Regions from separate parts of the Homo sapiens genome. Here region 1 is linked to region 2. The links come from fine-mapping of genetic effects on gene expression. A gene starts in region 2. The other region holds a variant in brackets. All regions are shown on one strand. Distances are from middle to middle.

Region 1 (2,998 bases), 21 kb before region 2:
TTCACTGCAACCTCTGCCTCCCGGGTTCAAGCAGTTCTCTTGCCTCAGCCTCCTGAGTAGCTGGGATTACAGGCGTCCGCCACCAGGCCCAGCTAATTTTTGTATTTTTAGTAGAGATGGGGTTTCACCATGTTGGCCAGGCTGGTCTCAAGCTGGCCTCAAATGATCTGTCTGCCTTGGGCTCCCAGAATGCTGGGATTACAGATGTGAGCCATCAAGGGGTTTTACTGTCAGTCATCAGTTGAATTTTTTGTTTCCCTCTTTGTGAGTTTTCACTTAATGCTACTACGACGTGATGGTGACACTGCAATGCCCGAGAGCCTCTGGTAGCCTGCAGGAGCTTCACGGCCGATGTGTGCGGCATTGTTCCTGCTTGTCGGTCATCATGCCTGAGAAGCCCATTGACTTTGGCTTAGTATTTTCCGGCTCTAGTGTTCACTGTTGCTGATGAAGGCTTCACGTGGCATTTACAGAGCCCTCGTAGATGCCATCCCCGTCTCTCTGTTCATCTTTTTCTTTGTTACTGGATTCAGAGTGAAGCCACCACTCGCTCTCGAATCGCGCGGACGCTGGGCCTGCGCAGGCCTGTTCACAGCAGCTGCATCCCGTCAGTGTTGAAGCCAGTGGAGCCCTCTTTGGGGCTGCTGAGAGCGGATATTGGAGCTGCCTCTCTGTCTCTGTTTGGAGATCCTTATGAGCTGGATCCCTTCGACAGGTGAGTGAACTGGTGATGGTCCTGCCTGGGCACCCGCTCCTCTCCCTGGGGGCTGTGGGCACGGGGCCCCGAGGTGCATGCGGAGGCGTTAGGTTTTGTGTTTGAGAGTGAGGGTGGCCATTCCTCCCACCGCCATACGGTGCAGGTGGGTGGCGTGGAACTCAGAGGTCTGGTTCGGGGCCCGAATCACACGTGCCGCCACATGGCCAGTGCTCGGCCATCCTCCTCCGTGCCGTCTCCCTGGGCTGGGGTTTCTGGGAGCTGGGAGTCACTTGTTCCCTTTGGCCTGTGTCCTCCCCTCTAGCAGTGAAGAGCTTTCTGCAAACCCTCTTTCCCCTCTGAGTGCCAAGAGACGGGCTCTGTCCCGGTCAGCCCTGCAGTCCCACCAGCCCGTGGCCAGGCCCGTCTCCGTGGGGCTTTCCAGGTGTGTGAGGGCAGAGGCTTCTGGGGAGGTGGGGGCAGCAGTTGGGCATCGGATGGGAGTTCTAGGGTGGGGCCGTGATAGCCTGGCTCTCTGTGGCCCTGGGTGGCGTCAGCACCTCCCCTCAGCTGTCATGCTCATCAGTCGGCCCTTGGCGTGAGGCAGTGCTGCAGCCCATCCTGTGTCAGAGGCCACGGCCTGCCTGTGAGCGTGGACTGGGAGTTGCTGCAGCTCCACGAGGTGGCCCCTCTGCCCCCCACCCCGGCCTGAGAGCCACCAGCACAGGGACACCGCCTCGGGCAGGAGCAGTGGCCCTGGTGAATAAGGCTGTCATCAGAGGTCACCTTTTGGCCAGTTCTTTTGTTTCGCCACAAGAACAAAAAATTAACCAAAACCAACAAAACAGGTAAAGGTGCTTGTCTGCCCCCTCCCACCTGTTGGTGGAGTTGGGGGTGGCAAAGGCACCAGAGGTGACTTCTCCCAAAAACGCCTGGTTTCCCTGGGGCCAGAGCTGCGAGGTGGGGCTCCCTCCCTCCCT[C/G]CCTCTGGGAGGCCCCGGTGAGCACCTCTTAGAACAGCAGCCGGAGCCAGGGCTGTGGGGGAGGCGCAGGCCCGGCCCAGCCCCACTCTCCCTGGCTCCCGCCTGCTGCGGGGCTCTGCCTGGGTGCGGGCCCTCAGGCCGTGGGAGGCAGTGACGGCAGGGCCTTGGGTCTGTGCCCACAGGAGGCGCCTCCCTGCCGCGGTGCCAGAGCCAGACTTGGAGGAGGAGCCAGTGCCTGACCTGCTGGGCAGCATCCTGTCGGGCCAGAGCCTCCTGATGCTGGGCAGCAGTGATGTCATCATCCACCGCGACGGCTCCCTCAGCGCCAAGAGGGCGGGTGAGTGCCTTCCCTGCCACGGCCCCTTCCTCTGTGGGCTGCTGGTCCTCAGGCTGTTCGCAAGCACTCAGCCCATGTCTCAGTCACGGAAGATGTAGCTGAAGTTGGGGGGACCATTCCTCAGCCATTTTTCTGCATTGATTTCCCTTCTTGAGCAGTTTCTCAGTTAGCTCCGAGTTCTTACCCAGCCCCACAGCTTCATGTTCATAAGAACATGTCCTGATGGGGTACTGCCCCCGCCCCTGGTTAATATCGTGTCCTGATGGCCTCAGGCACTGTACTTTGTCATCCACAGAGTGGCTGTTGAAGCAGCTCTCCGGGTGTGGAAAGGCGAGGTGTCCACCTCAACAGGCAGACAGGAGTTTAAAGCGCACGACCTCACAGAAAACCAGTTGTGATAAAAATTAAACCACTGACATTTAAGAAGAGTGGGTGGGAAATGATTGCCATTGACTTTTTTGTTTTTTAGCTCCAGTTTCTTTTCAGCGAAACTCAGGCAGTCTGTCCAGAGGGGAAGAAGGATTCAAGGGCTGCCTGCAGCCCCGAGCACTGCCCTCCGGGAGCCCGGCCCAAGGCCCGTCAGGAAACAGGCCACAGAGCACAGGGCTCAGCTGTCAAGGCAGGTCCCGCACCCCCGCCCGCACCGCGGGGGCGCCTGTGAGGCTGGACTTGCCAGCAGCCCCTGGGGCGGTTCAGGCTCGGAACTTGTCAAATGGGAGTGTGCCTGGCTTCAGACAGAGCCACAGCCCCTGGTTCAACGGCACCAACAAGCACACCTTGCCCCTTGCCTCTGCCGCGTCTAAGATCTCAAGCAGAGATTCTAAGCCCCCATGTCGCAGTGTGGTGCCGGGGCCTCCCCTGAAGCCAGCGCCCAGAAGAACAGACATCTCTGAGCTACCCAGGATACCAAAGATCAGGAGAGATGACGGTGGTGGCAGACGGGATGCGGCCCCGGCCCACGGGCAGAGCATTGAGATCCCCAGTGCC
Region 2 (2,711 bases):
CAGTACTTAGTCGAGGTACAGGAGGTGGCCCTGATGCCAGAGATAAGGATGAGGGGCCGCCGTGCCTGCAGGTGTAAAGGGCAGCTGGGTGTGGTCAGTCCCTCCTGGGTGGATGGGCCTCCATCCATCCCTCAGCCCCGCTACACAGGGGTTGCCTCGATTACACTGAGTGGACACAGACAACTCCCAGCGTCTGGGTCTGATTCCTCCTTTATTGGTGCCAAGTACCACCCCTCCCCCTCTCCCCCATCCTGCCCCCCACCCCAAATGCAGCTGCGCTCCTGGGCCGGGCAGGTGGTGAGGGGGTTCCTTCCTCATCTGGGCCGCAAGGTTCCTTCTGCAGCAGCGCCAGCTGGTTCTGAAACCATAGGCCCAGGGGGCAGCCAGGGAGACCAGGTCCCGTCCAGGGGCATCCTGCAGAGACAGCACGTGAGGGTCTGAGGGCTGGGGCTGGAGACCCCGGCCCCGCTGCTGGAATTGGGCCTCCAGTGGCCACCAGCGCTGACCCGGGGAGGCCAGGACAGAAGGAGGGGTCTGGGGTGGGGTCTGGAGTGGGGTCTGCGGTGGGGCGGGTGCTCACCAGGCCTGCAGGATGGGCATGTTGGACCCTGACGGGCAGAGCAGACCCGCGCTGAGCCTGGTCCAGGCCATGCTGTTCTCTGCGTCCTGCTCGCTGCCCCCCGCCCCAAAACAGAGTTAGTCCTGGAGCTGGGGGGTCGCGCGTTGCTGCTGGGGCACCACGCCAGGACCCCCCACCCCACCCGGCCTCACCTGCGCTTCCCCACCAGGCCCTGTAGCAGCCGCTGGAGCCGCGCGCCCTCCCGCAGGCGGCTGAGCTCGCTGGTGAACGTCCCGTCTGAGTGTCGCCGGGCCCTGCGGGCGGTCGGGGGTCGGGGTCAGGGCGCACTGGGGGCGGGTGGGGCCCGGGGGGCGGGCGGGCCTGGCGGGCGGCTCACCTGGGGGGCGCGGGGCGCGCGGCGGAGCCCCCGAGGAGCAGCAGCAGCAGCAGGAGGGGCCGGGGGGCCATGGCGGGGTCGGGGCGCAGGAGCTGAGCGCTGCGGCCACGGCCCCGGGCCCCCGCAAGGCCCCTTTATGGCGGCGCCCGGAAAGGGGACGGCCCGGCCGCGCCCAGCGATCCCGGGAAGGTCAGGGCCGCCCCCCCAGCTGTCGCCCCGGCCCGGCCTCCCGCCCCCTCCGCCGCGCTGGCGCCCCTCGGCCGGCTGGGGGAGGGGGACGTCCCGGCCTGGGGGGCGAACGGAGCGCGGGCCTGGGACCCGCAGAGGGAACCGCACCGCGAAGCCTCGGAGCCTGCGGGGGCGGAGGGGCCGGAGGGCTTGGGGGAGGGTTTGGGGGGGGACTGGGGGGCCCCGGGGAAGGGGCTGCGGCCGGAGTTCCGGAGGCCCCTGGAGCACCTTGCTGGGGCGAGTTCGTCTCCAGCTTCAGCGTGGCGTGACTGTTGGGGGGCCGGTGTTGCCATTTTATCTGCTTTGAAGTGCGCGATTCAGGATCATTCGGTGCATCCATCCCCACCATCCGTTCTCAGACTTTCCCGTCCTCCCAAAATCCGTTCACAGACGCTCCCGTCCTCCCAAAATCCGTTCACAGACGCTCCCGTCCTCCCAAAATCCGTTCACAGACGCTCCCGTCCTCCCAAAATCGTTCACAGACGCTCCCGTCCTCCCAAAATCGTTCACAGACGCTCCCGTCCTCCCAAAATCGTTCACAGACGCTCCCGTCCTCCCAAAATCCGTTCTCAGACTCTTCCGTCCTCCAAAAATCCATTCTCAGACTCTTCCGTCCTCCCAAAATCCGTTCTCAGACTCTCCCGTCCTCTCAAAATCTGTTCACAGACGCTCCCGTCCTCCCAAAATCCGTTCACAGACGCTCCCGTCCTCCCAAAATCCGTTCACAGACGCTCCCGTCCTCCCAAAATCCGTTCTCAGACTCTCCTGTCCTCCCAGAATGAAGCTCTGTCCCCATCAAACGCCCCCTCCCCTCCTCAGCCCCGGCGCCCCGTCCACTTTCTGTCTGTGGATTCAGCGCTTCCAGGGACTGCGCGCAGGGGGAGCCTCACGGGATTTGTCCTTTGGAGACCGGCTGGATTCTCAGCGCAGCATCCTCCGCCTTCGCCGCCGCGGCCTGGCCTGTGTGGGAATCTCCTTCCCTTTTGTGGGGAACTGTGTCCCGCTGTGTGCAGGGACCGCATCGACCGCGTCCGCTCATCTGTGGGCATCTTGATGGACACCTGGGCTGCCTCCCCTTTGGGGCGACGGCGAGTAACGCTGCTGTGAACGTGGGTGTGCAAACGGCGCTTCCCGATCCCGTTTTCAAGCGTTCTTGGTGTATAGTTATGAGGGAATTGCTGGGTGACAGAGTAATTATGTGTTAAATATTCTGAGGAAACGCCAAACTGTCTTCCCAGCAGCGCAGCAGGGACACGGTTCTTGTCCTCGCCAACACTTGCTACTTTGTGGCTTTTTGTTTGTCGCGTACTAACGATGCCGGTGGGTGCGACGTGGTGTCTCGCTGCGGTTTTGATTGGCATCTCCCTAATGGCCAGCGATGTGGAGCATGTTCTCAAGTGTCTGTGAGCCATTTATACATCATGGAGTGGACGGAGAAATGGCCGTCAAGCCCTTTGATGTTCTGCTGTGGTTGCGAGTCATGCACTGTATCCGTCTGTTAAATCAGCCACAATATTTTCCCCAGCG

What was found.
Region 1: its variant is fine-mapped to the expression of SCT in putamen (GTEx, PIP above 0.99).

Annotation. Positions count from the first base shown.
Region 1 is chr11:604,586-607,583 of GRCh38, forward strand. It overlaps PHRF1 (PHD and ring finger domains 1), which reads left to right. Exons shown (of 18, transcript NM_001286581.2): 11 at 534-715; 12 at 1,020-1,139; 13 at 1,857-2,011; 14 at 2,481-2,998. Among named protein-coding and RNA genes, the nearest start is that of IRF7, 9.9 kb to the right of the region's middle. RefSeq lists an enhancer at 74-692. The variant C/G (reference allele first, on the strand shown) is at 1,675.
Region 2 is chr11:626,117-628,827 of GRCh38, forward strand. It overlaps SCT (secretin), which reads right to left and starts at 1,065. Exons shown (of 4, transcript NM_021920.4): 1 at 957-1,065; 2 at 772-873; 3 at 581-673; 4 at 193-414. The coding sequence starts at 1,027. The coding sequence ends at 315. RefSeq lists an enhancer at 599-1,099 and a silencer at 693-987.